Linked DNA regions of Homo sapiens. The protein of the gene in region 4 interacts with the protein of the main gene of each other region in a biochemical or structural test. Each region holds a gene or a part of one and is shown on either strand. Other genes may lie near its edges.

Region 1 (7,697 bases), on a different chromosome or scaffold from region 4:
GGGTCAGAATCCCCTTTACAACAAACAGCTGCAGCAGCCGCCTCTGATTTCTGCTTGACTTTCCACCAACTGCAAAATGACTCATCATTTCTGGCAGCTTCAGTTGGTTCTTAAGCCAAAAGCTAGCTCCCTATGGCTTCTCTGGTCCTGTTGTGCCCCATAGGACACCTTAAAAAAAATGTGTGGCCCGGGCGTGTTGGCTTATACCTGTAATCCCAGCACTTTGGGAGGCCGAGGCGGGCGGATCACAAGGTCAGGAGATCGAGACCATCCTGGCCAACATGGTAAAACTACTAAAATACAAAAAATTAGCTGGGCATGGTGGTGCGCACCTGTAATTCCAGCTACTCAGGAGGCTGAGGCAGGGGAATCGCTTGAACCCGGGAGGTGGAGATTGCAGTGAGCTGAGATGGCACCACTGCACTCCAGCCTGGTGACAGAGCAAGACAACGTCTCAAAAAAAAAAAAAAAAAGTGTGCTCCTTCTTACATGTAATAGCCTTTCAAATTCTTGAAGATGCTCTCTTCTCCAAAGCCTTACTCAAGCTAAATACTCACATGGTGGCTTCCAAAACCTCTTCCCTGGTTACCCTTGTCATTGCCTTCTTAAAGTGAAGTTCTTGAAACCGGACACAATATTGATTGAACAAATAGAACATTTAGATGTGTGAGGCATTATTCTACATGCTCTGAATATTCCAATTCAACCCTCATAGCCACCCTTCGCTGTAGCTACTACCCCTCTCTTACAACTAAGGAAACTGAAGCACAGAGAGAGGTGGTAACTATATTACCAGGTATTCCAAGTATGGTCTGACCAAGTAAGTACAGTAAGATGGTCATCTCTAGAAGCCAAGTGTCTGTCAGTTAATTTTTAAATTACCATATTTGGATGGGGCAACCACTTGGACTATGAAGTTTCTGGTCTTTTTCTGTAGTCCTCAAATCAGGTCTCACCATGTGGTATTCATACAATTTACTTTTAGGTTAGTATAGTACATCTGAAATTTATTCTTATTTCTTTAGTTTTCATTCTTTCTATCCTAACTAAATATTTTGAGTATTAATTACACCATCCAGCAAATGAATTATCTAGTGCCACTTTAAGTATGTTAATATATTTTCCATATCTCCTTTCAACTTTAAGCACATAAACGGTTAGGAACAAGTAGCATGCCATTAGAGACTTCTATTCAAGTTGATATTCAGGTTGATATCAAGTATTTTCTAGGTATGATTGTTCAAGTAGCTAAAAAAAAAAAGCCATTAATCTAATTAATTGTTTAATCCTGCTTACAAGATTATCTTGAAAAAATGTGCTGGGGAGTATGGTATAATGAATTACGGGTCCAAGAATTTGGGTTCAGATACCACCTTCAGTCTTTACTAAGCTGCGTGACTTTAGCAAAGTGCTTAGTCTCTCTAAGCTTCGGTTTCCTAATCTATGAGGAGGGCCTAAGATATCACCACCCATCATATTCCCCCCTCTGTACCGCTTATTTTAGATTCTACTATCATTGTATATCACAGAGGACATTTATCTTGTTCATCTTTACAATCAACACTTAGCAAGACAGATGGTACTTAGAAGGCCCCCCAGGTTATCTGTTAAACTAGACAACCTCAGTTCTTGTGTTAAAAGTAAAAAAAAAAAAAAAAAAAAAAAAAAAAACCTTAAAACATGCAGTAGTGGGTGTTATGATAAAGAGCTGTTAAGAGAAAATAAAGTTAGTTTGATTCAGGTTGGTCTTGGTCTATCTGTGTTTCTTTTTTATTTGCTAAGGGCTTACAAGTTGTTTAATAATCCTTTCTAGGCTTTTATGTGCAGTTGATAGCACTTAACTGACCTAAAGCTTAAAATCTAATTGTTTCCTATTTTGGGAACAATTTTATTTCCAGGCTTATATTCTCCATAGATTTTCTCAGATCACCAAGAGTAAGCCTGCAGTTATATTCACAAATTCTTTCAAAATCTTAAGACCAAGGACTTAAAACTCATTTATCAATCATTTGGCATTCTCTTATCACTACCAATTTGAGTTGAGCTTCAGTTTAGCCTTAATGATGATTGTTATGCCTCTTCCAGTTTGAGGAACAAAGTCCTAACTCAGTGCAAAAGTTGAGGTCATGAGTGAATGGGCCCAGCCTTAATGCATGAATATATGGCCTTGTATTACTTACCAGTCTGTACATGTTGTCCGTCTCTTTGTCTACCACCAACAGTGAAGTCTGATCTCCACCCTTTCTAATCATTTCTACCACACTGTCATGATCCAGGGTTTCCACAGACTCGCCGTTGACAGCAACTACCAGATCATTGTTCTTCAAGCCAGCCTCCTCTGCTGGACTTCCAGAATCTATGTCCTTGATGATTTGACCTACCCTCCCCCAACCCCAAAAAATAAAATTATCAGTAAGTCCCCTAAAAAAATAAAACAGATTTTCTGCTGGAGCCCAAAGCCCTGATGAAACAGATAAAAAAGGCATGCTGAGTACAACTACCACCCCTTCCACCAGCATCCCAGGAAGCTTATAAGCACACTATCTAGGCTCGTTTCCTGCTCAGAACTCACCCCAGAAACTAACCCAGCAATTAACAATGAAGGGGTCTTAACGAAAATAATCCTGTTACTAAAAGCGTCTGACATTTGATTTTGGCAAAATAGCATATTAAAAGGCTGCAAGTTCCCAGAAAGTCAGTGGGCATACTTGTAGCCACGCGTCTTATGTAAAAGCTGTCATAAAAGATGGGGAAGAATAAAGAACAAAACCCAAAACTTTGGACCTTAAGAAACCCAGGCTGGCATTTTAGTAGCAATTGGGTGTGTTCGGTTTTGAATATATTTGTATATACATGCCTCCATGTGCTTTGGCCTTCTGGTATCTTCACCAGATGCTGCCTTTTTTTTTTTTTTTAACAAGTTCCTGTTTCACTTTTCCAGCTAGCTGCTGGGTATCTCCAACAAAATATCTCATAGATCTCTCAACTGTAATGTATTCAAGCCAAAAATCAGCTCTGCCCATTCTCCATCCCAAAGCCCCTCCTCTTGGTTACCTGTTAGTGGAGCAACATCATCCCAGTCACCAACACTTGGCAACTGATTCTTCCCCAGCATCCAGTCCCCATATCTAGACGATTGCTAAGTCCTCTGATGCTACCATAATACCTTACACATCCCACTTCCTCTACCCTGAATGCAGTTTGTATTAGTTCCTGCCTAGAATTCTACCTAAACTATTACAGCACCTTACCTACTGCTTTCCCTTCCCCAGTCCTTCTGTCTGATACAGATCTGCCTTCAGATCCATCTTGGTGCACATTCCTAACCAAGTCACTTCCTGGTGCAACAGAATGAGCATGGGCTTTGGAACTAAACAACTATTTGACCTTACATAATTACTGTATCTTCTCCAAGCCCTCAATTTCAGCAGTTCTTCTTGCATAATTGTTAGGAGTAATTGAGATGTGCAAAGCCCCCAAGACATTATAGGCTGGTTTTTGTTCTTCTCCCTTATACTGCTCAAAAAACAACTCCCCATTGTCTGATAAGCCAAGTTCAAACTCATCAGTCTTGCATAGAAGTCCCCTTGTCACCTCTCTCCAACCTACCTTTCCAACGAATTCTTGTACTACACATCATGTGCCAATTAAACTGTGCCAGTGTCTCCTGACTGTGTTCACATGATTCCCACCTTCCTGGAATGATCTTCCTTATCCCAGCTCTGTCTACTTTCCCAAATCTATTCATGTTACAAAGCCTGAACTCAAGTGCCACCCCTACTATGAGGGCTTCTGGTACCTTTTTAGTGAGAAAAGCTTACTCTAACGTTGAATTATCACAGTGCTTGATCTGCCCCTGTATGAAGGTACTTAACCTCTATCTCCCTTCATTATGGACATATCTCTTATCTACTAAATGGTAGACTCCTTCACTAAAGAATTCCTGTCTGCTTCATATGATATTCTTTCTCCAAGGCACTGAGGATGTTTTTACAAAACACAAACCAAATTAATATTTGATAAATTAATGTAAACAGAGAGTGAAAAGAAAATAACAACTTATGGGCGAATAGCAGTTTATACGGCCCGAACTCATGTTCTTTTATGTATTTACCTTCCCTGAAAGAACCTAGTGTTCTTCCTATTGAGTTGCAAGGAAGGAGGACTCCTGGTTCTGAGTCCCAAATCCTCACCCACACCTCGGCCTCAGGTCCAGCGGTGTGCTATACTGGCTCACACCGGCTCACAAAAGCCAATTCTGTGCAACACTTCATTGTGTTCAGTGACATCGTGTTAGTAAGTTGAAACTGGACATGGGAGGAGTATTTACATCACAAAATACTACCAATTTGGTACCAAAAACAAACGCTACCAATTTGGATTTCCCCCCACCCCCGCCCCAGAGAGCTAACTTACCAGGATACCGTTGCCCAGATCCCAAATTCTGCCTTATCATAATGCTATGGAAACTTTTGATGCCCAACATCAGACCCTCATGTGACATAGACGCTGACCCAGCTGTGCCTTCTATGCTATGCCGCTCATGCATCTGGCTGGGAGTTGGGAACCTAATGGAACTCTGGAGTCAGAATGGGATGAGGAATTTGCTGGTTACTGCCAAGTTTCCTGCTCTTGTACCTTACCTTTCTGTTCTGAGCCTGCCCTCAGATAGAAACCATAGCCATTGCTTCCTTTCTTCATCTCCACAATTCGGGGCTGGTGGGGTAACAGTTTCAAACTGGCTGTTTCTCTTTTGAATTGTATCTTCTGCTCAACATGACGCTTGTCAGTTTCTTTGTCCACCAGCAGGAACATGACACGGCTTCCTGACTTCTTCACCTGTAACAACACACACAGATGAGGAATGACATCAACCCCCAAGAACAATGCTGGGGAATAAGAAAGTTTCTGTATAAAGGCACACAGTCTCTAGGTTCAACAAAAGATAGGGGATGAAAGGCCTGAGTTTAAGCTGTTACACTATGCCCTACCAGCTAACTGATATGTATTTATCGCCTTTTTTTTTTTTTTTGAGATGGAGTGTCACTCTTTCGCCCAGGCTGGAGTGCAGTGGCACTATCTCAGCTCACTGCAAGCTCTGCCTCCCGGGTTCACGCCATTCTCCTGCCTCAGCCTCCCGAGTACCTGGGACTACAGGTGCCCGCCACCGCACCTGGCTAAATTTTTTTTTTTTTATTTTTAGTGGAGACGGTGTTTCACCTTGTTAGCCAGGATGGTCTCGATCTCCTGACCTCGTGATCCACCCGCCTCGGCCTCCCAAAGTGCTGGGATTACAGGCGTGAGCCACCGCGCCCGGCCCCTATCTCCACTTCTATAGTTGTTTTCCCTTATTTAAGTATGACCTACCCACATAGGTGCTAACTGAGCCCAAGTAGGAGCTGGAATTCAGAAAACCCATAAAGGTACCTAGATAAAAGCTAGAAAGGGAGTTTGGAAAAGAAAAGAAAGTAAGGGTCCACGTCAAAAAATCATTCTACAAAGAGAAGGTTGGTCAATTTTTAAGGTTCCATATGACCTCAAAGGAAAATCTCGGTTATCTCCCACTTCCTATTAAAGCATTTCAGTATTAACGGCTCAACAGTGAACTTATTGTAAATTCAGAGGGCGCAGTGGCACACGCCCATAATCCCAGCACTTTGGGAGGCCAAGGCGGGCAGATCACTTGAGCTCAGGAGTTCAAGACCAGCCTGGCCAACATAGTGAGACCCTATCTCTACAAAACACACACACACACACACACACACACACACACACACACACACATAAAAATTAGCCAGGTGCGGTGGTGCACACCTGTAGTCCCAGCTACTCAGGAAGCTGAGGTAGAAGAATCATCTGAGCCCAGGAGGCCGAGACTGCAATGAGCCGAGATTGTGCCACTACACTCCAGCCTGGGTAACAGAGTGAGACCCTGTCTCAATCAAACAGTTCAGAGGGGGCTCCCAATCAGATACAAACAAGATCCAAAAGGTAAAGTTAATAATTTTGTAGACCTCATGTGAAACTAGGGAAGGCTTTATTCCAAAACCCTATATTAACACTGCTTATACCACTAGTGTGAGTCTGTTCACCCTTAATATGAAGGGGCAACTCAACTGGATATTTTTTCCATCATAAACTCATGCTGTCCCCTACCACCCCTGTCTTCCTGTCACCTCCAATGAGAATAGAGTGGAAGATAGGGTAAGAAAAGTACCCTTTGGGGCATACCTTTTCAACCACTTCCTCATGGCTGGCATCCTCTACATTCTCTCCATTCACTTCAATCAAGTGATCATCAGCCAGAACTCCAGCTCTCATAGCCACACCTTGAGGTGTAATATCAGTCATGTACACCCCCTTTTTACCTGGAAGAGAGTAGGGGTAAACTCCATGTGGAGACACAAGTGACTCCCTCTTGGATGGTAATCTGTGATGTTGACTTCTGATTAGCCCCAGTCCTGTGATTGCCTCCCGATTTCTACTTCATTTACTGTCCCTAGTCTAAGAACATGTCAACCTTAATGTTATCACGCAAATTATAGGCTATGATGCACTATAGCATTCTTGGCTATTGCGGAGGGCTGCCTTCGATTGTCTTGCTGGAGCACATATACCCTTTCCCTATGGTATATCAGCCTTGGGTCTGGGGAGTAACACAGAGATCTACATGTTTTGTGGCTGTCCAAGACCATGCTTCTGTTCGTAAGTTCCCCTGATAAATTCCAATGTACCAACAAACTGGATTTGCCTGCCTTGTCCTTTGGTTTCTCAGCTCCTTTGGCCTTTGAGGGACTGCTTTGCATACACCACCCTTTCACAGAACACTCCATTGCAAAGAAAAACTCGAAATCCAATGGTAAAGACTTTTCTCCCAATAATGTGAAACAAACTTCCGATTTTAGAGCTAACTCGGCCTTTGGCTTCTGATCTAAAATCACAGTTATAGGTCCTGGCACTGAACTTGACACAGCCTTTACTCAGTGGGTATTTGTTGATTTGAATAGAATTTCTGAGGTCAGCTAAATGCAAAGATGGAATCTTGGGTGGCCTTGGCCCCTTGAACCAGAAAGCGCTAAAACATGCCCACACTGCATTATTGTGTCATACGCCCTTTCTTTGCATTTGTAGAATCAGAAAGCATCTTTACCATTCTCTCCTCTTCAGTTTGTACTATTATATTAGCCATCGTATGCTGTGGAGTCATCTCACCAATGTAGGCTAACAAGGACAGGCACAGGAGGGAGGGAAGAACCCGAATGCATTTAGGTGGTGAGATTTAGGTGCTACTTATAGAAATGCTGTCAATTCTTCAAAGATATTAATAGAGCAGTTCCCCCTTAACCATGGGGGATACATTCCAAGACCCCCAGTGGAGGCCTGAAACTTTAAGATAGTATACCGAACCCTATATGTTTTTTCCTGTGCTTACATACCTACAATAGAGTTTAACTTATAAATTAGGCACAGTAAGAGATTAACAATAACTGAGCTAATCTTAGCAACCTCAGCATACAGTATTTTTTCTTTCCTTATTAAATCGAGAACTTTTCACTTAATAGAAGCACTTTACAGCCTTTTTTTTTTTTTTTTTAACAGATGGAGTCTCGCTCTGTCACCTAGGCTGGAACGCAGGGCCGCAATCTTGGCTCACAGCAACCTCTGCCTCCCCGGTTCAAGCGATTCTCCTGCCTCAG
Region 2 (8,051 bases), on a different chromosome or scaffold from region 4:
CCGGGGGAAAGTTTGCTGGCTTTAGGCTCTGGGAGGGAAGCAGAGGAAGACCGATCAGGCAGCAAAGGATCGAAGGGATTCAAGATCCATGGGGCATCAGTCACCTGGGAGATGAAGAGACGAGGCCCACTGGCCACACAACTGAGTCGGAAGCCATAGCTGCCACCAGGCCCAGGGTACAGGAAGCACTGTCGGGAGCCAAGAGGGACAGAAGGCACGCTTGTGTCTTCAAGTGAAGGGTCCTCTGTCTCAACCAGTGAGGCTGAGCTGCTGCCCCGGGGCGAGGCGGGAGCCTCTGTGTTCTCCAAGAAGAGGAGTGGGGACAGGCGAACCTGGAAGGTGGCAGGGAGAGCAAATCTTTCGGACCTCAGCCCTGCCCCACTCCTGCCCCAACCCTAGCCCCTGCCCCTCAGCACGCACCATGCTGAAGAAGCGGTCCGCCTCAGGGTCGACGACAGTGAGGGAGACACAGGAGCCCTGCCCCTGGATCCTGGACACTGTCTCCTCATGGCCCAGCCCCTCCACGCTCTCCCCAGCCACAGCCACCAGCCGGTCCCCAGCCTGCATCCCAGCCTTCTTGGCTGGCAGTCCCGGGTCCACCTCCCACAGGAACTGTCCTGGGGCATAGACATCCTCACTGCTCCTCTCCAGCTATCCTAGGCCACTGTGTACACACCAGGGGACTGACCCCAGAGTGAACGGGAAGAGGCGGCCCAGGGCCAGAGCTCAGACAGGGACACCTCTTCGGTGCACTGAAAGGTGTATATACGCTTGTGTGCCCACCCCAAGGCCCACCTTCCCCCACCGCCCCCAGGGCTCCCACTCACCAGGGCGACCGTCAAGGCCCTTTTCCTCCCGGAGCAGGAACCCAAAACCCTGGGGCCCTTTCTCCAGGTGCAGGCAGCGGGGCTTGGTGGGCAGTGCCCAGCCCTCTGCCAGGGGTGCAGCCAGGGGCAATCCCAGCTGGCGACACTGTTCTTCCACCTCTGGCCCTGCCACCAGCAAGGTCACCTGCTGTCCACTCTGCCAAAGCTGTGGGGACCCAGCAGGGCATCAGTATAACACCTGGGCAGGGAGAGAAGAGGTATGCTCCCCCCACAGCCCCTCCTCCCAGGCACTAAGTGGAGCCTGGCACAAACTGTAGAGGGGGAGGATGGTGATAAAGGTAGGAGACCAGATAAGGAGGTTAGGCGCATGGGGAAGGAGGCGTCTTCCCGAGGTGGGGCCCAGGCCCGGATTGGGGGAGGAGAGTGGGAGACAGGCAGTCACACCTTCCTGGTGAGTTGGTTGTGAGTGAACTTCTCCACACTGACCCCATTCACTTCCAGCAGCCGGGCCCCGGGGGGCACCCCTGCCCGCTCAGCTGCTCCTCCAGTACTTAGCACCAACCAGAAAGGACCCTGATTGCCTAGAAATTAAAAAAAAAAGCAAGGTCCAGTCTGTTTCCTGCCTGCCCTGAACAGGGGCTGAGATCCCTCATCCTTGCCGCCCCCTCGCACCCTCTGGGCTCACCATGGGTGACACTGAAGCCAAAACCACCCTCATCTTTCACTATGTGGCACAGCCGGGGCCGGACCCCTGGGCCTAGGGTGGGACAGAGGTGGGCATCTTCTCCCAGCTGAGCTCGGGCCACGTCATGTGCATGCCGTGCCAATACTGTCAGCAACACCCGAGGGCTGCTGGCCCGGATGCGGCGTACCACCTGGACAGAGGGCACGTGGGCGTGGGTTTGGTCTAGACCCTCTTGCCAACCCCCAGGACCTCCCTGGAATCCACATTTTTTTGCCAAGGGAATCGGCTTTTTTTCTTTTTCTTTTTTTTTTTTTTTTTTGAGATGGAGTTTTGCTCTTGTCGCCCAGGTTGGAGTGCAATGGTGCGATCTCAGCTCACCGCAACCTCCGCCTCCCATGTTCAAGTGATTCTCCTGCCTCAGCCCTCCCGAGTAGCTGGGATTACAGGCGCCTGCCACCACGCCCAGCTAATTTCTGTATTTTTAGTAGAGACAGGGTCTTGCCATGTTGGCCAGGCTGGTCTTGAACTCCTGACCTTGGGTGATCCACCTGCCTTGGCCTCCCAAAGTGCTGGGATTACAGGCGTGAGCCACTGCGCCCAGCGGGAATCGGCTTTCTAGATGCTTTCCCTACCCCTCTGACTTGGGCACTTCTAAATCCTGGGGTGTGGGGGAGTGAGGCTTGTGCCCTGCTGCCATACTGCCCAGGGGACTGAGCAACCCGCTTCTCTTTCTGAGGTGCTAGCATGCTCTCCTGGACCACAGCCTTACCACCGCATAGTCTTCGTGTTCCACAACATCATTGTTCACCGCCAGGATCCTGTCTCCTTCCTGAAGACCCTGGCGCTGGGCAGAGGTGCCTGGGTCCACCCTGCACACCACATGCCCAGCCCTGCCCAGCTCCTGCTGCAGGTGGAAGCCAAAACTCTTGCCCTCCTCTTTGCTCAGTAAACAGAAGCGAGGCCGCTCCAGGCTCCAGGGATCTGGAGGGTGAGGTGGGCAGCAGAAAAGGGGGAGGAGAGGGCACAGCCCAAGTACAGGTTCGCCGTGTGCCTGGCAGACCCTGTGTCCTGATAGGGTGCTGGGCAGTTTCTGCCTGGTTGGGTGTTGGGTGGTGGGGTTCGTGGGCAGAGGGACTGGGACAGGAGAAAACACCCGGCCCCTCCTATCTCTACTCCCAACCAAGGCTGTTATCAGAGGGAGACCGAGTGAGTGGTTACCAAGGAGATCGGAGGCCGTGTGGAGCCGTGGTGCCTCCAGGGATAGGGAATGGTTGCCAGGGGGTGAGGGAGTTACCATAGGGGTCGTGGTCTTCGGCCAGGGAGAGGACAGGATTATCAATGCCCAGCTTTGGGTTAAACTTAAACTTCCTGCAAGGAGGCAGGGGAAGCAGGTACAAGCTGGCAGCTGGACTTGGGTCCCAGGATCTCCTTTAGGTGCTAATGGCAGTGAAGCGCTTCGCTGCCTCCAATTATTTCCTCCCCTTGCCCCAACCCTCGTGGCACTTACAGAGTTAACGAGGCTGTGTCCTGCAGATCTACTGGGCAAAGAAGTGGGTGAGAGGAGGAGAGTCACATTCTTCTCCCCAGATGTGCCTCTTCCATTGGCATAAACTAAAAGGACTCAGGGAAACCCCCAAACTCAGGGCATGCCCCCTCCTTTCTGCTCCAAAGGGGTCTTCTCTTCTCACTGCCATACACACAGGACTATTGTGCGGTCCCCTCCCTTTCTCTCCCCCCAAGTCCTTGGCACATAAATCTGAGCATATCAGTACAGGGTGTGGACCAGGAAGACAGACATATCAACTCATTACTTTTCTCCTGACTTGTTTACCTGCCTCAGGGCTCCAAGCCCCAAAATCAAGTGTGCCCTGGTCCCAAAGCTTCAGCCTCCAAGTCGGCCCCCTGCCTGTCCCAAAGTCCCCTGCAGAGGATTTCTCCTGGCCTCCTACCTGCGGCTTTCTCCATAGCTGGATCAGCAACCCAGTGCCCGGGGTAGGGACAAGGTTCATCACAGCCACTGATCCTCCCACCCATCCCCTCCCAGGTCCCGCCTCCTTGAAGACGCTGTGGAAGCAGTGGGGTAATGGTTAACGGGAGTGAGAGTCTTTTTTTTTTTTTTTTTTTTTTTTTTTTTTTGAGACCGAGTTTAGCTCTTGTTGCCCAGGCTGGAGTGCAATGGCATGATCTTGGCTCATCATAACCTCTGCCTCCCAGGTTCAAGCAATTCTCCTGCCTCAGCCTCCCGAGTAGCTGGGATTACAGGCATGCACCACCACACCTGGCTAATTTTGTATTTTTAGTAGAGATGGGGTTTCTCCATATTAGTCAGGCTGGTCTCAAACTCCCCACCTCAGGTGATCTGCCCTCATCGGCCTCCCAAAGTGCTGGGATTACAGGCGTCAGCCACCGTGCCCCGCTGAGAGTCTTATCCTCTGGAAAACTGTGTGGGTTCCTCCTGAATCTATCCCTGGGCCCCAACTTTTTCTGGAGACCCTGAATCTGACCCAGTTGCCCCTCTGTGCAGAGAAAGGCAGATTGCTGGTCACTAACTCCAAGCCTGGGGGGTAAGTGTGAAAAGGGTGATAATTCTATGGCCCATAGTATGGTTTGGCTGTGTCCCTACCCAAATCTCATCTTGAATTGCAGCTCCCATAACTCCCTCGTGTCATGGGAGGTACCCGGTGGGAGGTAATTAAATCACAGGGGCAGGTTTTCCCGTGCTGTTTTCATGATAGTGAATAAGTCTCATGAGATTTGATGGTTTTATAAAGGGGAGTTCCCCGGCACACACTCTCTTGCCTGCTGCTATGTAAGATGTGACTTTGCTCCTCATTTGCCTTCTGCCACGATTGTGAGGCCTCCCCAGCTATGTGGAACTGTGAGTCAATTAAACCTCTTTCGTTTATAAATTTTTTTTTTGACAGAGTTTCACTCTTGTTCTCCAGGCTGGAGTGCAGTGGCACTATCTCGGCTCACGGCAACCTCCACCTCCTGGGTTCAAGCAATACTCTTGCTTCAGCCTCTCGAGTAGCTGGGATTACAAGCATGTGCCATCACACCCAGCTAATTTTGTATTTTTAGTAGAGACGAGGTCTATCCATGTCGGTCAGGCTGGTCTCAAACTCCTGACCTCAGGTGATCCGCTCACCTCGGCCTCCCAAAGTGCTGGGATTACGGGCGTGAGTCACCATGCCCAGCCTCCTTTATAAATTACTTACCCTGTCTTGGGTATGTCTTTATTAGCAGCGTGAGACTGGACTAATACAGCCCAGCATGGCCAACCCCCATGCCAATATCTTGTTCATGGGCCCTTCCAGCCTCCACTGCCTCTGAACCTAGTGCCCAAGAACCACTTGCAATAGATCATGGTTGGTAGTTTAACCAGAAAGACCAAGAACAGTGCCCTTTCTTGGAAGCACCAGGCAGTAAAGAAGAGGCCACAATTGGTAGAAGGCACACGGCTTTTTAATAGCAGCAAGTCAGGTGCATCTGCCTCGAGGGGCTACCAAGCCATCATACCATTGTGGCAAAGGGGGCATGAGGATGAGGAGAAAGCACCAATGTGAGGGCATCCTCGGTGTCCACAGGTGAGCATAAGGCAGGAGGGGAAGCTTCCAACACATCTGGATGGCGACACCCCTGGCATGGCAGACATAAGATGTGAGCCCCTTGGTGACACAGTCAGAGGCTCTTTGAGAGGAGGGGGAGGCAAGGTTGGTAGTGGTGCTTCAGGGCACTCTGGCCATCCAAATGCCACATGCTTTGGTCCTTCTAGCTGAATGGAGAGGAGGCATGTTCCATCTCCAAGCCCGAAGCATTGATTCACCATCTTTAACTTGGAGATTCCAGACTCAGTCCTGGTCAAACATGCCCTAGGAGGGCAACTGGCTCAGCTATGCCCATTCCTCTGCCTCCAGACCTGAAGGAATCTTTCTAGAGGGAGCAGTGCAAGCCAGGAGGCCACAGAGGGAAAAGGTTTAGGGCCAGTGGTCACATAGCTAGGTGCCTGCCGCCAGTGTCTCAGCTTCCAGAGCTTCCCAGCTGCTCCAGGAGGGCCCTGACCTCGCCCTCCACTCGCAGCAGCTGGGCCTTGCGCCAAGGATTAAGGGTGGCACCCCGGCTATCTTCCAGATCCCGCAGTAGGAGCTCAAGGTGTCGCTGAACCCGGGCCCGATCCCAGCTATTGAGGTTCCGCTGGACTTCACTGAGGATCACTGACCAGTATTCTGACACCGCCGTCCCCTCTGTCAGTGACACCACCACCCGGGCACCACCTTCAGCAGCACCCCCCAAGTCTCGCAAGACCTGGCGGCCCTCTGAGCTCAGCTCATTGAAGTAGAGGCTGGCAGGAGAGAGAAAGTCGATGCCATTCAGTAGAGCTCTGAGAAGGAGGGCCCGAGGGTAGATGGATGGAAAGTCAGGGGGCCTCACAACTCATCTCCTGGCTGCAGAGTGCGATCAGGTAACTGCAATGAGCCAGAGGTGGAGGCTGCTGGCCAGTGGGAGGCAGGGACTAATACTAAAATTCTTTTTTTTTTTTGTTTTTGTTTTTGTTTTTGTTTTTGTTTTTTTTGAGATGGAGTCTTGCTCTGTCACCCAGGCTGGAGTGCAGTGGCATGATCTCGGCTTACTGCAACCTCCACCTGCCGGGTTCAGGTGATTCTCCTGCCTCAGCCTCCCAAGTAGCTGGGATTACAGGTGCGCACCACCACACCCAGATAATTTTTGTATTTTTAGTAGAAACGGGGTTTCACCATGTTGGCCAGACTGGTCTTGAACTCCTGACCTCAGGTGATGTGCCCGCCTTGGCCCCCCGAAGTGCTGGGATTACAGACGTGAGCCACCACAGCCGACCCTGATACTAGAATTCAGTGGGACCAGAGACAGTAGGGCTTTAGGAGAAATGGTGGTAGGGAATTGGTGCAGTTTAAGCGCCAGTCACAGAGGGGGTGGGTTGGCTCAGAGCTAGGTTGACAAGGATCAGTCAGAAACCAGGAATAAAGGACAGGCACCAGGCCCAGGCCCAGAAGCACTCCCTAGGATTGGAGGAGCACAGTTGAGAGAGGGAAGTAGTCTGAAGGGCTGGGGGCAATGGGACCAGGGACAGGACTCACTGTAGCAGTTCCAGGGAAGGGTGCTCCCGGGCAGCTCTGGCCAGGGCCAGGGCCGCTGTGTCACCAGCACCGTTGTACGCCACGTTCAGCTCCTGCAGCTGCCGGTTGCGGTCCAGCTGGGCAGCCAGCAGCTCCAGGCCTTCGTCCCCAAGGCCCGTGTGCAGCAGGGACAGGTGCGTCACTGAGGTGTTTCCTGCCAGCCCCTCCATTAGCACGGCAACACCTGCCGCCGTCAGCGGGTTGTTGGACAGCCTACAGCCACGTGCAACCCAAGGTTATGAGGGCTCATTGAGAGGAGGGGGAGGCAAGGTTGGGGGTGGTACTGGCAGCCTTAATGGGGCAGCCCTGTGCTGGGTGTCAGGACTTGGGCCAAAGAGGGCCCTGCATGGGGCAAGAGGAACCTGGACATAGAAATGCAGGCCCAGGAGAAAGGCTGGAGCAATAGGGGGTGTGGCGCCTGGCAGAGGAGTCAGAGTAGGGGAGCTGGCCTTTCCTTCCCTCTTCCCCTGACTCCCTTCTTATCTATTCCCTTCCTTTTCACCATTTCCGTTTCCCTTTTTCTGCCTTTTTCACCCCCTCCACAGCCTCTGCTTCTCCCTCCCCTCTGACTCCCCTATCCTTCTCCCTGCTCTTCCTTTTTCTCTCCTCATTTGCCTCCCCTTACACCAATCAGAAACTGGGAACCCAGGAGCTCAGGTTCCCCACATATCAGTCAACACTTAAGGGGTGTCTACTGAGTGCCCAGCATTAGGGTCCTCCTCGGGAGGCTGCAAGAAAAATCCTGGGAGGGGATCAGTGGCACTGTTACCAGGCAACCGGCCTAGGTATTATTCCACCCTCTCTCCCCACCTCCCCCAGGCTGATTTTAGCCACGTGAGAGGTTTCTTAGCACCCATTACAGGTGGCATGTTTCCCTGCTGCCCTGCTGCTTGCAGTGGACCTGGGGGAAGTGGAGGGGACAGGTCAGGGCCTAGACTCTCCTCCATTTACTATCCCTTGGGTGGGTCTGTGCCAAGTATGTCAGGAAGCAGGGAGCTCACCCTTGACCTTAGCTGGCCACCAGGATGCCCCACTCCCAGGTCACTCACCGCAGTGTGGTAATTTGGCACTGGTCATGCAGCAACAGGTCTCGGAGGTCCTTGCAGGCCTCAGGGCCCAGGCTGTTGAGTTGCAAGCTGGAGCAGAAGGTGGCCAGAGGGGAGGTGAGAGACCAGGGAGGGAATTCAGCAGGCAGTCTGTCCATCTACCATGCCTTTTTTTCATCAGCCTGCCTCTGGGAATCTATACCTGCTTCCCCTTTTTTGAGAGACAGGGTCTCACTCTGTTGCCCAGGTTGGAGCACAATGGCATGATCACAACTCACTGCAGCCTCAGACTCCTGGGCTCAAGCAATCCTCCCACCTCAGCCTCCCGAGTAGCTGGGAT
Region 3 (7,697 bases), on a different chromosome or scaffold from region 4:
CATTTTTTTAGTCTGCTGTTATTTGCCTCACAGATATAATAACCTAGTCTGAGGATGGCATTTTAAAAAAAGTCTTCCTCTGTTCCGTCTTGTTCTGTACCTTCTGTGCTCTCTGCATTCATTTTATTCATTTTTGTCTTTGATGCATGGCCCTTCTTCAGATATTTGGTGATTCTTGGCTGTCCACTAAATATTTAAGAATAGGGTATTAAATGCCAGGCTCATGTGGGTAGGACTTACTGATTGCTGGGTTTTCTCATAGCTTGAATAGGTAGGGACTTGTCTGTTTTATTACTGTATACCAAATGCTAATAATAACAAATATGTTTTCTTGGATCAGATATTTGCTCCAGAAGAAACCTTCCCATTTCCTTAAAGGCCTTAGCTTAGCTGCCAGTGCTCCAGGAGCTGAGTGGAGAAAAGAGATGCAAGTCTCACTAGTTAGTATGTTGACTTTGTCTTAGCCCCCATGTTTTCCTTAGGATGCCTTATCCCTGCCTTGGTGTCCTTGAGAGCAGAGCTGGTTCAGCCTTACTAGAGTAAATTATAGGTCTTATTCCCCAATATGGGTGAGTTTAAAAGCTTCTTACTTCAAGCACTTGTCCTGTTTTCAGCTCATCTCTCACTTCTACCTTGAGCAGTTCCCTGTGTTTCCAATTTCTAAGGCTTCCCAGGCTTTGTATGCAGATGTTTATTTTTTACTGGTTTCTACCCCTATAGGCTTAGGTTTTAGCTTTCTCTTGTAGGCTTAGTCTTTATTACTGTTTATCTATTGTCATCCTTGGTGACTCCTCTTGATTACTGCTGTCTCTTTTGTTCTTTTTGTCTTTATATGCCTGTTTTATTGCTGATGTCATTTTAGTGATGTTTCAAGAGTTGGAGACAAAAGATTTAATCTGTTACATTTAATTGGAAATGTATTTTGACTTTTCTAACCTTCCTTTATAGACATCCCTTTCTCCATCCTTTGTAATTGTACTTGTTACTAATACAGTATAATTTTCATTTTTGTAGCCTGTCTATTTTACTTTTTATATTTTGTTTAATCAAGTTTTCTCCTATTTTTTCATATTTGAACAGATACTCTTTTTTTTCCCCATGAACCTACAAATCTAGAAATAAAAGTATTAGAATGCTAAAGGATTAGTATTTTTCTAGAGGAATGGTATCTTATAATAGTTTCTTGTTTCAAAATAAATTACTGATTTGTATTTTCTCCCATATTATCCATGCCCTTTAAGGTGTAAGTCTGGTTTTAGAATGCTAATTTGTGACCTGTGTTAGAGAATTGCATATTGGAGTCCTTCGCCTAGAGGATTAATAGCTTATTTATTAAATATGACTTCTTGGGAGCAGGCATGTCCAAGTAATGGCTGTCACTTATGTTGAAAAAAGTGGTAATAATATATGGATACATAGAGAAGTTTAAAAAAAATACTTCAGGCTGCATGCAGTGGCACATGTCTGTAATCTCAGCACTTTGGGATGCTGAAGCGGTAGATTGCCTGAGCTCAGGAGTTCGAGACCAGCCTGGGCAACATGGCAAAGTCCTGTCTCTATCAGAAATACAAAAATTAGTGGGCGTGGTGGCATGTGCCTGTGGTCCCAACTACTTAGGAGGCTGGGGTGGGAGGATTGCGGGACCCCAGGGAAGCCGAGGCTGCAGTGAGCCGTGATGGCATCACTGCACTCCAGCCTGGATGACAGAACGAGACTGGATCTCAAAATATAGATAAATTTAAAACCCCGCCCCCCCAAAAAAACACAAAAAACAAAAATGAAAAGGTAGTTGCTATGTAAGATTTTTTTTTTAGCAAGCATATTAAAGATAAAATGCTATGATATTTTATTAAATGAATTAAGGTGTTTGTTGTTAAAATGTCTTCTATTTTAGGACATATAGCAACATAGTTGCTTGCTGGTTTATGAATAGTGCTTAAATATTACTTCCTCATGGTCTAAAATAGTGTCCCTCACCCCACTATCACTCACTGCACCTATATTTTGCTTTATTTTTCTTCAAAACAGTATCACTCCTTCTGACTATATTTATTAGTCTATTTTCATCAACTAGATTAGCCTTTGTTTTATTCATTGCTGTGTAATGAGTGTCTAAAGCAATGTGTAGCACGTTGAAGGTATTCAGTAATTTGTTAAAAGAATGAAAGAGTAAACATTTGCCGCTTATAAAAGGAAATATGCCAAATTTCAAGTAGATATTGAAATTATTTGAAATAACTCATGAGATATAGAGGAAGGCAAGCTGTTACAATGTAGTCATATGCAAATGATAATATTAGAAACTTGAGTTACTGATTTGGGTTCCAAGACCATCTTAGCATTTCTGTTTTGTGCTGCAGGTATCTCCTCCTCATGTCAAAAGTATCTCATAAGTGAAGTTCATTGGGAAGATTTTCATGTATTTTGACAATTTTATAGGTTGGAGAATTATAGATAGGACAATTTACTTTGAAAGACACACCTTTAAAAAGCCTCTCTAACTTTTCTTAGCTGGATGAAAAAGAAAGTCGGCGTCTGTTCCAACAGATCCTTTCTGGTGTGGATTATTGTCACAGGCATATGGTGGTCCATAGAGATTTGAAACCTGAAAATGTCCTGCTTGATGCACACATGAATGCAAAGATAGCTGATTTTGGTAAGGATAATTTTATAGTTTCTTAACGTTCATTTCTAATGTTCTTATAGTTTCAATGAACCTACCTAGAATTCTTCAGATAACTGTAAAAGATTACATAAAGTAATAGACTGAGTATATCAAAGTATTCTGTTTTGTCTATGAAGATACAAAAAGAAGAAAAGCTAAGAAATCATCTTTTCTTAGCTTTAAATGTCTTTATTACTATTATTTTATAGAGGCAGGGTTTCGCTTTGTCGCCCAGGCTGGAGGGCAGCGACGTGATCATAGCTCACTGCATCCCCAAACTACTGGGCCAGGTGACCCTCCTGCCTCAGCCTCCTGAGTAGCTGGGACTGCAGGCGTGCACTACCATGCCAGGCTGTTTTGTCTTTTTGTAGAGACAAGTTCTCACTATGTTGTCCAGGCTGCTCTTGAACTCCTGGCCTCAAGTGATCTTCCTACCACAGCTTCCCAAAGTATTGGGATTACAGGTGTGCACCACTGCACCTGGCTCTTTAAATATCTTTAAAATTAAATTTTAAACAACTTAAGTTGGTAGTATTAGAGAGACTATTTGAAAAGAGTATTATTTGTGAAAGAGAAGGTAGCAGCTTTATTTCCAGTATGTTCAAAAGAATCAAGTATGGAGAAGAAGGAAAGTGAGTGGGATGGAATTATTTAAAACCTTAAAAACCAGAAGTGAACTATGTGAATTTAATTATTTAAAATTATTTAAAACAATTTTTTAATTAAAAAAATTTATTTAAAAATTTAAAAATGTTTTAAATGATAGTAAATTATAATTTGTTTAAAGAACATTTTGATTGTTAAAAATGAATTTATTTTGGCTGGGCGTGGTGGCTTATACCTGTAATCCCAGCATTTTGGGAGGCCGAGGCGGGCGGATCACCTGAGGTCAGGAGTTCGAGCCCAGCCTGGCCAACATGGTGAAAACCCATCTCTACTAAAAATACAAAATTAGCTGGGCATGGTGGTGCGTGCCTATAGTCCCCACTACCCTGGAGGCTGAGGCAGGAGAATTGCTGGAACCCAGGAGGTGGAGGTTGTAGTGAGTTGAGATCGCCTGTCCGGCCTGGGCGACGGAGTGAGACACGGTCTCAAAAAAAAAAAAAAAAAAAAAGAATTTATTTTTTCTGTATTTCCTATATAAATTGCCATTGACCTTACTAAACCTAAGAGAAAAAGGAATCTCTTCTTTTCTTTAGGTTGGTTTTAGTTCAAATCAGATAACTTTTTTTTGTTTGTTTTTTGTTTTGAGACAGAGTTTCACTCTGTCACCCAGGCTGGAGTGGTACGATCTCGGCTCACTGCAACCTCTGCCTTCCAGGCTCAAGTAATTCTCCCACCTTGGCCTCCCAAGTAGCTGGGACCACAGATGTGGGCCACCACATGCAGCTATGTTTTTTTTAATTTTTGGTGGAGATGGGGAATCACTATGTTGGCCAGGCCGGACTCGAACTCCTGAGCTGAAGTGATCCGCCTGTCTTGGCCTCCCAAAGTGCTGGGATTACAGGCGTGAGCCACCATGTCTGGCCCAGAGAACATTCTTATAAAAATTTTCCTCAGTTTTGACTACATCTATGTATCTATATCTATAACTATATCTATTTAAATGTTCAGAGATTAACTGGAAAATGCCAACCAAACCTGAGCTGGTTGTTTTGGTGTTTTGTTTTTTTTTAAAATAGTAATTGGCTAAATTATTTGAATTTCTTATTCCTCAGTTGATTATTTTTATAGGGTGCATTTTTGAGGGAGCAACAGTTTCTTTTTGGAGTAAAACTGTGAGGGAACTTTGAAATTCAAAATTACTGTTTTTTTTTTTTTTTTTTTTTTTAAAGAATCAGAACAGGCTTAATAGGAACTTTGAATTTTAATCCTTCTATTCATCTGTTATAGATTATTTTCCCTAGTGATTTCTGTATTAATAAAACTTAAACATGGCAAGTTTTTTCTAATAAGCAAAATAACCAACAGCTTAATATATTTGTATTAAACTCTAACAGTGCACTAACTTTAAATGTTGAAATAGATTACACATTTTAGGGCATAATGGCAGAATATTTGGCTACAATAGACCATAGGATTTTGTTGAAGCAAATAACAAAATGATGATTTATCATTTTAATGCAAACTCAATTTTATTGTTTAATGGGATTTTAATTTTTGTCTTTGGGAAATCTTTTGAGTAGCTGATTTTGTGCACTTTCAGGTCTTTCAAACATGATGTCAGATGGTGAATTTTTAAGAACAAGTTGTGGCTCACCCAACTATGCTGCACCAGAAGTAATTTCAGGAAGGTAGTATTTGATACCCTGCCTCCCTCAATACATTTGAAATTGTCTTTTTCTCCTAGATTTTGTTAGTCTATAGTGTCATATTTAATTCTAATGAAAGGAAAGAAAGATAAGGCTTATTCTTAACCACATTTATATGTGAATGAGGGTTAAGGACTACAAGTCAACATTATATTAAAGTTGTTAGAAGAGAGTACATTAATTTTTTTCCCAGGTGGAAGAAATGGAAAGTTTAAAACTAGGGTGTTTAAAAAGTAGGTAAGACACTGGAAACTTGAATAATACAGAAATATCTAGTAGTTAGAAAAGGATTACTATTTACTTAGAGGAAAAATTAAACATGTAATGTGTAGCTTTAATTTTTTACATAGATGGCATTTTGTAGTACCTTTATGTTTCATGATAAAATGTCTTGGGGAACTGGGCTGAAGTAATCTTTAGACTTCATTTATGTTGAATCTTTGTTCTTTAAACCTTTTAGAGACTGCAATATTATAAGAATTTTAACCTCTCAATTTACTAACTACCAGCATTGAGAACATGAAGATATTTGTACAGTGTCGCTTTTTGAATAGTTTGGAAAACAGGAGAATTTAATATTTTTAAGAATAACTCTTTGTCCTTCACTATACTACTGAAATTGAAAACAGAAGCTGAAGTTTGCTAGATTTATAATGAACTTTTAATAACTTTTCACCCAAACCATGCTTATTTGTGTGAATGTTTTGCATCTTGATTAACTCAATGCAGAAATACTGTAGTATTTTCTATTTTTATAAGCTTGTTGGCCTAGACTGCTCAAAGAAATGAGATTTGTGTAAAAATATGGCTGTGAGTAAGGCAGGAGTACCTAATTTTAGATTTGTCAAGTTTCATCTTTTTTTTAAATATTAACTTAATGTCAAAAATTATTTAAAAAATTTTTAAAAAAATGGTGTTGTCTATCTTAATTCTTTTAGGAATAAAACAATTCAGGACATGGAGACTGTGGAAAGTTGTTATTTAAATAAATAAAAAGAAATGTTATAACTGTGCATATATGCAATGGGCTATTACTGAAATTTAATTTTTCTAGTTTGGATAAAGTCTTTCTTCAAGCTCTTGGTGTATGAGAACTTTTACTTTCAAAATAATATTTATCGATCAGTTCAGCAGTACATAAATTTAAAGAAATCCTTTTCCTGAATCCAGGCTTTGAATGGGTGATCTAACTAGTCTGCAGCTAGTTAAGGCACTTGACTACAATGCACTGCAAACGGGATTTAAAAACTCTGTGAACCAATTTGCCTGGCTTTCTTTCACAGCCTCAGGATCCTTTCACCTTGGTGTAAGGGGTCTTGTGTTATTGGGATTGTGGGCTCAGAGTCCATTACTAAAGAACATTCTCAGTTGATGAAATATCACTTAATCTCTCCTCTGTAACAAAAACCAATGGTTTTAAATTGAATAGTGATATGTTTGTTCAAGATTTGGCCCTATTGTCAGATCCCATCAGGGCCATAGTAAATAGTAGAACAGAATTTTAGCCATGGTGTGTAATTTACAAACTTCTTGACTTTTGTTTTCAAAGATAATACTGATGGAATTAACGTTGTAACATGTAGTAGTGGCTATAAAAACCATATTCTGCTTAAGAATTCTTTATGAAATATCCATATTTGAAGTTTTTGATGAACTGAATCTTAGGTTAAAATGATTCTTTAATCCAATTGTTATTTCCTGTTACAGATTGTATGCAGGCCCAGAGGTAGATATATGGAGCAGTGGGGTTATTCTCTATGCTTTATTATGTGGAACCCTTCCATTTGATGATGACCATGTGCCAACTCTTTTTAAGAAGATATGTGATGGGATCTTCTATACCCCTCAATATTTAAATCCTTCTGTGATTAGCCTTTTGAAACATATGCTGCAGGTGGATCCCATGAAGAGGGCCACAATCAAAGATATCAGGTAATAAAGCAGTTTGGAAGTTATCAGATCTGATAGTATCCATGATAAAAGTTATGTGAAAAAAAAAAAGTTGCAGAACAGAATATACAGTGTAATCCTGTTTTTATGTGAAAAAAATAGAGTGTATAGACACATTTATTTTATTTTGTTATTAGAAATACATAGTAAACTGGTTACCTTAGGGAAGTAAGATTCGTAAGAGGGAGGGCTTTCACTTTTTACTTACACATCTTTGTTTTGAAATTTTTACAGTGAACATCATATTACTTTTTAAATTAACAAAAAAGCTAATGAAAGATTGGTGCTGTGGCTCACACCTGTAATTCCAGCACTTTGGGAAGCTGAGGAAAGAGGATCATGTGAGCTCAGGAGTTTGAGACCAGCCTGGGTAACATAGCGAGGCCCCATATATATGTATATCTTTTATTTTTATTTATTTATTTTTTTTGAGACAAGGTTTTGCTCTGTCACCCAGCCTGGAGTGCAGTGGTGTGATCATAGCTCACTGTAGCCAGTAACTCCTGGGTCAAGTGATCCTCCCACTTTAGCCTCCCTAGTAGTTGAGACTACAGGCATCCACCATCATGCCTGGCTGTTTTTTGTTGTTATTGTTTTGCTTTTTGTTTTTGTTTGTAGTGACAGGTCTTGCTATTTTTGCCCAGGCTGGTCTTGAACTCCTGGCCTCAAGTGATCCTTGTGCCTTTCCCTCCCAGTGTTGGGATTACAGGTGTGAGCCAGTATGCCTGGCGTTAGGATTAATACTTTTCAGTAGTAAATTTGTGGGTGGC
Region 4 (7,697 bases):
AAGAGAGCTGATCAAACTAAAAAAAAAAGTTAAAGGTAAAGAAACCAACTTTAGTATAAATCATGTTCCAATTAAATTACAGCTCAATGGGTTATGAAAATGCTTAAAGAAAATAAGAAGACACATGAACCAGAAGAGAGCATTAAAAGGGTTTTCTTTTTCCTGGAGATATTTTTTATAATGATGTTTGTTCTGACAGGAGTTGATCATACAAATTTTATAGCTGAATAAATGTGTGTGGTTTGGGAACATGAACACTGTCTCAGAGAACAAGGAAAGAAACTTAAGCAAAAAGTATAATTTTAAAAAGAGTATAATAATAGTGTTGCACAGTCATTCCTAACTTGGGTTTCTAAACCATCTACAAAAGCAGTGGTGAATGAATAATTTTAAATACAGTAGTACAAAAATACTTTAAAAATTCAATGATGAAGCTATCCAGACCAACCATATAGTCTGATTGAAAAATATGCATTTGATTTTTTAAACAAAAATGAGTAAATGTGCATCATTTCCTTTAATTTCTCAGTCCCGCTGCAATGGGATTTGTGCCCCTGATATGGTATTAGCACATAAGCATTACTATAATATTAATGGCTCTGCATTCTAGAAAACCAAAACAAGAGAAATAACACAACTAAAATGTGGTCTTTGTACACACTAATAAAGTATACAAATGTGTGGCAATATTTATCAAGCAGAAAGACAGAAGGCAATGATAAACACTTTAGGAATAAGAAAGGTGCTATCACTAAATAATGTGAAAAAAATTTAAATAATAGTATGAAAATGTTATGCTGCTAAATTTGAGAACCCAATATAAGGAAGGAGTTCTTAATCAAGATACCAAAAGCACAAAACATAAAGGAAAAGACAATAAATTGAACTTTATTAAACTTAAAAGCTTCTTTTCATCAAAAGACTCTATAAGCCAAGCCACTGACTGAGGGATTATGTTTGAAATGTATAGAGCTGATGATCAATCCATAATTCATAAATTCCTACAATTTAATTAAGGAAGAAAAAACTAGGTGACAAATGAGTAATCAACATGAATAAGAAATTAATGTAAGAGAACAGCAAAAGCCAATAATTATGTATGCAGCTTCCCTATATTTTTAGTAATCACTTCACATCTACCAGACACCAAGTGTTGTTGAAGATACATAGCTATGAGAATTCTTGTACTCTCTTGATGGGGATATATATCAGTACAACAGACTTGAGGACAATTTGGCACCACTCAGTTAAGCATGGGTGAATCCTATGACCCAGCAATACAACCCCTAGGTATTTCTCCTAGAAAATCCTGAATAAGGAAACAGGTGAAAGAATGCTCACTGCAGTATTAGATCTTCATAGTGGCTATCTATGAGAAGGAAAGAAGAGATAAGGATTTAATGACAGATACACAGTGACCCTCAATTTATCTGTAATGTTTTATTTCTTAAGCTCAATATACGGTATATAGTTCTTCCTCATGCTATTACTCATACTTTGTTACTTGTCTGAATTTTTTTCATAAAAGTTAAAAAGATGATAAGACTTACCAAGCTATCCACATCTATGCTGGAGTTTACAGCCCACTGCAATGTACTCATGATATTCATGGCTAAAGTCAGGATAATACCAACTCTTCCTTCTCCTTCTCCTATAGATGCACAAAAGACGTAAATGAACCTCATGTTATTTCTCTCTTCTGTGAACGACTTTATTCACACTTCTCCTAGGGCACATATCACATTAAATTTACATTTCAATTTTATGCTAATTTTAACAATTTTTAAATCTCAGTTCATCACAGCATCTACTAATAGAATAATGCTCTGCATATAGTAAGTATTCAACCAGGATTTTAAATCAAAGAGCGATTGAATATTAGGAAAGTGTTGCCCTTTTTAAAAAATGTTACTGGTATTGGAGGTGTTGTTGGTAATGGGTAGGTACCATATTTGTCTCTTCTACTATTATTCTATAAGTAATAACGGTAACATATATTAGAATGGGCAATGGGGAAAAGAGATCCTGTATCCAGATGAGCTGCTTTACAAAGAGACCAAAAGCAGGGGAAGAGTGTCCAAACAGCATCTGCAAGATGTTTAGGTGTGTTCTGTGCCTTTGCAAGGAGGACCTTTGCTAATTGCATGCTATTGGGAAGTAAGTGGACTTAGAATTTCACCGGACAGTCAGAAAACTAACAGTTCTGCCATTTGGAAAGAGAAAAGATTACCCTCTATGCAAAAAAAAAAAAAAAAAAAAAAAAAGATTACTGTACCTGGGAAGAACAACACTTAAGTGTTAAATTACAGTAATTTTTTTTTTAGGGCTAAAGAGGACAGCTAATTAAAATTCATGTGTTCAGTATTATGGCCATAGAAATTCTCTAAGAGGAATGTTCTTAAATTATTATAAAGTTAGACTATCAAGTCCCAATCAAGAGTTCTTACATCTGTAATGCATGATAAAATTGTCAAAAGATTCTACAATTGGGAGAAATAATTCATCTTATTATTAATTGAAATTTTTGTTTCTGCAATTCCTCTAACAGAAGGCATAATATACACAGCATATATCTGCATGTAGTATTAAATTATTTTCATATAGGCAAGATTTATCTAGACCCCAATATATTACTGTTCTGAAGGTTAAGCTGAGAAGATAAAATTTTAATAATAAGTCAGATAACATTTATTTAGTATTTACCATGGACCAGGCACTATACTAAGTGTTTTGGACAAATTATTACATTTACTATTCACCCCACACCTATGGAATAGGTAATATTATTGTGTCTATTTACACTTGAGGAAAATGAGGGGCTTAGATAGTTAATTAATGTTTGCAAGTTAACACAGCTGAAGACCAATTGAGCCAGGGATAATAATAGCTGGGTGGCCAACATCCACTCCGGCTGAGCATCTGATTTGATTGGTAAGTTCTGTACTATAATGATTGTTAAATGTTTTGATTATTGCCCCTAATAAATCAAGACTCAATCACACTCAACCATGTTATAGCATGTGTTATATTGGTTTGAATTAATTGTTAACAAATCTTCATTTATGTAATTCAGCCTTCTTTGATCTTATTTTCAAATAACTTAAAAGAATTTTTTAAAGTTGCTTAAAATTACAGTACTGATGAGGATTAGTACATTTGCCTGCCCATGTATATTCCTTTCATAGAGTCATTTCCCACTGCCCTAGCTGAGAGAACAACAAAGGTGGTGAACCCACTATCCTCATAGCAGCAGAGTAGACTGCAGTTGGACCCCTGAGCCAAAAGGAAGCTGTTTTCTGTTCTCTCCAGGACTTTGAGTTTGTACAGAGGAACTCTCCTGTAAATTCAGGAGGCCAGAATGGAGACACTACATAAAGTCAATGTGGCATAGCCCTGGTAGACCAGAAAAACCAGTCTTCAGAGAGAGAAAGGAATGAAGCAACCACAAAAAGGAATGGACCCAGGACAGATATAGACTCAAGAAGAAGAGCTGCAGCTGACTCTCTTGTGCCTGTTGCAGCTTCTTTAAGAGTCGAATGGCACCACCTTCTCGGTGTTCCATGAGGCCTTTCTGTAACTCCAGCAAATGCCTGCTTTCGGTTTGAGTAGAATTCTGTTCCTACAATCAAATGATCCTACAGATTTGGCATTGATTTGGCATTTGCTCTGCCAGTATTCACTGTCACATATAAGAAGTTATTTCAACACTTATCATAAATACTCAGAAATTCAAATTCTTAAATTAGAGAAACAAATTTACCTACATAGATTTTTATTTTACTTATTATGAAATACTTTGTTTTTCACTAAAGATCCTAAAATCAATCCAGAACATTTGTATTTGAAAAACATGGCACTTTCTTTTCTTCTTTTTCTTTTGAAAAATGTGACACTGTCTTTCTTTTCTGTGACAGTTTTTCTTTGTGTAAAACTCACAATTAGATAACAAATTTTATCTAGTAGAGATTTAAAAAAAACAAAACTTACCGACAAGAGGAACTCTGTGTGTGTGTGTGTGTGTGTGTGTGTAAATGCGGATGTTTCATTTCCCCTCTTTAGGAATCTATTAATTTTGAAGCTAGGACCCTTCACCAATATGAGTATGAAGAGGTGACATATTTCCCCTTCAATCACAGAATTGCTATCTGACAATCTGTGTGCATCGGTTTTTAAAACTGTGAAAACAGGGATAATACTATATATATATATGTATATATATATATATATATATATATATATACATATATATATATATATCCGATTTCAAGGAAATTATTTGTTTAACAATAAAACAATGGAAATTCAAAGAAATCACTTGTTCAATAATAAACCAACAAATTTGTTAATTACTAAACTCTAAAGATATCAAAAATTGATAACCTATAGAATGCAGCATTTTATTCATTGAAAATTTTTTACTTAAATGCTTAGCTAAAGTTAATGAGTTCATAGTACCTGTTGTTAAAATGGAAATGAAGGTAACAGCAATGAAGAAGATGACAAAAATCATTTCTATTCTCATTTGGAACCAGCGCAGTGTTGACAGGTACAAGAACCAGTTGGCAGTATGTAAATTCAGAGCTTTGTGGAACAGAGTTTCAAAGTAAGGCTGCCGTCCGAAGGCACGAAGTGTCCATAGTCCTTTTAAGCTTGTAACAAGATGAGTGAAAATTGGACTCCTGCCTGTGAAATATTTCCATAGAAAACATTGCAAATAACATAAACACAAAATGTAATTTCATAATATCTTGTACCTGAAAAAGACTAAATTAGAATAATCATATCACAAATGTCATTGGTTAAAAAGCTTTTTTTCACACTGGTGCCATTCTTTGAATAGATATGATTTGTTATTTTATTAATGAGTTACCCTCTTTTTTTACTTGGCTACCAGAGATGGGAACTTAAAAAATTACCACCAATATTTATTCCTCTTTCTTGGCTACCACTGGGAGTTTTCTGGCTAATTCTAAATTAATTCTTACTAAAAAAATTTTCTTTTAAGACAATTTTTTCAAGTATCTAAATTAAGGAAGTTTATGTGACTTGATTTAGCTAATAATCTACAAAGCAGAAATATACTGAAAAAGTATTGCCTGAAAATGCACCCACACTAAGGCTGTCACTGCAAAATGTGATTCCCTAACAGCTCAAGTAGAGTTTGGGGGCACACGAAATGGCAGCTCCAACACATGAAGAAAGGGTGTCTGAAGACAACAAGCCAAAGGGACAAATTTGGTCAAGTATCATTTGGGAACCCAGAGAAACCTTTAGTAATAGCAGCACTATCCTTGTTTAATTTGACTGATATAAGTTTATTATAAATGAATGTCCTGTACACCAACTGTGGTAAGATTCTATATACCTATTTTAAAACCAAAATGAAGTCACATGGTCATTAATTAAGAAAAAAAATCCATGTGTACTTTGTAATATAGTTTCCTTTTATATACACATGCATGTAGAAAAAAATTATTGTTATATGATGTAAAAGTTTAAAAGCAGAATTTTTTTTAAGTAGATTAACAATAAAGAATCTCAAATAGCTCTTATAGCTTTTTTACAAGATGAGTATCGCACATTCACTGTCATACCTTCAGATTCCAGTTGTTTGAGTTGCTGTGAGGTTTGGAGGAAATATGCTCTCAACATAATAAAAGCCACTATCACTGGCACTGTTGCAACAAAGATGTAGGGTTGTAAAACTGCGACAACTGCTATAGCTCCAATCACAATTAATAACAACTGTAAGATCAAAGAAAACATGTTGGTGAGTAAACATTTTCACATTGCAAAGTGGACAAAGTGTGTCAGTGATTTATTTCTTTTTTTTTTTTTGCATACTTTAAACACCTCAAACTTTTTTTTATTTTTTTTATTATACTTTAAGTTTTAGGGTACATGTGCACATTGTGCAGGTTAGTTACATATGTATACATGTGCCATGCTGGTGCACTGCACCCACTAACTCGTCATCTAGCATTAGGTATATCTCCCAGTGCTATCCCTCCCCCCTCCCCCCACCCCACAACAGTCCCCAGAGTGTGATATTCCCCTTCCTGTGTCCATGTGATCTCATTGTTCAATTCCCACCTATGAGTGAGAATATGCGGTGTTTGGTTTTTTGTTCTTGCGATAGTTTACTGAGAATGATGTTTTCCAATTTCATCCATGTCCCTACAAAGGACATGAACTCATCATTTTTTATGGCTGCATAGTGTTCCATGGTGTATATGTGCCACATTTTCTTAATCCAGTCTATCATTGTTGGACTAAATACTCTCCCCATTCTATTCCTAGTCAGAAAGTAGCCATTTGCAAGTACATTTTTCATAGGCTCTATGAAAATTTTAAAAATTGTTTAGGTCACTGATAACATTTTTGAAGTTTGAAAACATGGTGTTCTTTGATCTTTGGATATTTTCATTTCCCAGACACTTTAAAGTATTGCATGATAAATACATTTTAAGTGAATATTAATTTAAAATAAACTATTTTTAAATAATTTTAGTATGAAGGTGAATCTTAGGATTTATTTTGGTTAGACAGTTTTTGAAAGCTGGGCATTCGTCTTGGAGTCTTTTGATTCAGAAAGTTCTGCTTGAAATACAAGCTTGTCATTTAGGCAAGCTATCTAACCTTTCGGAGCATATTTTCTCATGCTTAACATTGAAATAAATCATACTTAATAAATTTCTATATTTCTACATTACACCAAATACATACATTTTTAAAAGGTACAAAGTCCGCTAACATGTACTTCACAATAATCCATTTGAATAAAGTATAAAGTAACTGTCTGCAGAAAGGATTAAAAAAAACCACTTTATAATATCCATATGCTGTTCAGTGAGCCAGTTCTCTACCCGTTACCATAAGTGACACATGTATTTTCAACTGATATAACTTTAGAACTGAAAGGGACCATTATCAGGTTTATATTCCCCATTCTACAAGTGACAAATCTGAGACCCTTCAAGATAAGTGTCTGCTCAAGGTAAAATAGTGGGAATCTGTAGAAAATAACCAAGATTTTCAATTTTCACTATACAGTGCTCCAATCCGGAAAGCAAATTTGTCAGAACATTGTCAAAGTTAGAAAATAGAATGAAGATTACATGAGGTATCAAAATACTCAAACTCAAAGAAGCAAAGAACAGAACCATGGGTAACAGGACAGGGGAGAGAGGGAAATGGGGAGATACTAATCAACAGGTATAAAATTTCAGTAGTGCAAAATGAATAAGTTCCAGAGATCTGCTGTGCAACATTTACCCATGGTGAACAATATTGTATTTTACACATAAAAATCTGTTAAGAGGGTAAATCTCATGTTAAGTGGACTTGCCACAATAAAATTCAAATTTTAAAAAGAGAAAAATAATAGAAAATAGAGTGAACAGAGACTTTTTTTTAAAAAAAGAAAATTTATAGGTATGCTTTATTTTGTGCAACAGATCTGCTTCTGAAATATCATGAATAGAATGAAATTTCATTTGTTTGAAATTAAGTATAACCAGAGGTAAAACATAAGTATAACCAGAGGAGCTCACAATTTGAAGGACCCCTGTGATTAATTATTTAACAAAATCAAAATTAACCAAATTTGTACTGTATTTGGATTGTCATATATTATGCTTCCTTAATATGAGACTCTCTTACAAATAAAATGGGTAAATTAATATAAAAGACCTCTG

What was found.
Region 1: the proteins of CFTR (region 4) and PDZK1 form a complex in vitro, tested with the Homo sapiens proteins (2 studies listed by BioGRID and IntAct, with this or other methods).
Region 2: the proteins of CFTR (region 4) and NHERF4 form a complex in vitro, tested with the Homo sapiens proteins (2 studies listed by BioGRID and IntAct, with this or other methods).
Region 3: the proteins of CFTR (region 4) and PRKAA1 form a complex in vitro, tested with the Homo sapiens proteins (2 studies listed by BioGRID, with this or other methods).

The regions. Positions count from the first base shown.
Region 1 is NC_000001.11:145,676,269-145,683,965, forward strand, and holds part of PDZK1 (Na(+)/H(+) exchange regulatory cofactor NHE-RF3), read right to left. Parts: intron 6,369-7,697; coding exon 6,232-6,368; intron 4,840-6,231; coding exon 4,644-4,839; intron 2,378-4,643; coding exon 2,181-2,377; intron 1-2,180. UniProt on the Homo sapiens protein: A scaffold protein that connects plasma membrane proteins and regulatory components, regulating their surface expression in epithelial cells apical domains.
Region 2 is NC_000011.10:119,180,921-119,188,971, reverse strand, and holds the start of NHERF4 (Na(+)/H(+) exchange regulatory cofactor NHE-RF4), read right to left. Parts: upstream 3,498-8,051; 5' UTR 3,478-3,497; coding exon 3,462-3,477; exon of another isoform or gene 3,344-3,461; intron 3,337-3,343; exon of another isoform or gene 3,051-3,336; coding exon of another isoform or gene 3,048-3,050; coding exon 3,020-3,047; intron 2,881-3,019; coding exon 2,807-2,880; coding exon of another isoform or gene 2,494-2,806; coding exon 2,282-2,493; intron 1,703-2,281; coding exon 1,513-1,702; intron 1,409-1,512; coding exon 1,272-1,408; intron 1,066-1,271; coding exon of another isoform or gene 1,054-1,065; exon of another isoform or gene 1,033-1,053; coding exon 828-1,032; intron 684-827; coding exon of another isoform or gene 652-683; exon of another isoform or gene 618-651; coding exon 421-617; intron 333-420; coding exon 105-332; intron 1-104. Other genes in the region: NLRX1 (NLR family member X1 isoform 1 precursor), read right to left, coding at 5,533-5,854, 6,627-6,878, 7,715-7,801.
Region 3 is NC_000005.10:40,766,678-40,774,374, reverse strand, and holds part of PRKAA1 (5'-AMP-activated protein kinase catalytic subunit alpha-1), read left to right. Parts: intron 1-2,511; coding exon 2,512-2,656; intron 2,657-4,871; coding exon 4,872-4,959; intron 4,960-5,437; coding exon of another isoform or gene 5,438-5,492; exon of another isoform or gene 5,493-5,939; intron 5,940-6,684; coding exon 6,685-6,909; intron 6,910-7,697. UniProt on the Homo sapiens protein: Catalytic subunit of AMP-activated protein kinase (AMPK), an energy sensor protein kinase that plays a key role in regulating cellular energy metabolism.
Region 4 is NC_000007.14:117,608,567-117,616,263, reverse strand, and holds part of CFTR (cystic fibrosis transmembrane conductance regulator), read right to left. Parts: intron 5,746-7,697; coding exon 5,595-5,745; intron 4,684-5,594; coding exon 4,456-4,683; intron 1,652-4,455; coding exon 1,551-1,651; intron 36-1,550; exon of another isoform or gene 1-35. UniProt on the Homo sapiens protein: Epithelial ion channel that plays an important role in the regulation of epithelial ion and water transport and fluid homeostasis. Mediates the transport of chloride ions across the cell membrane.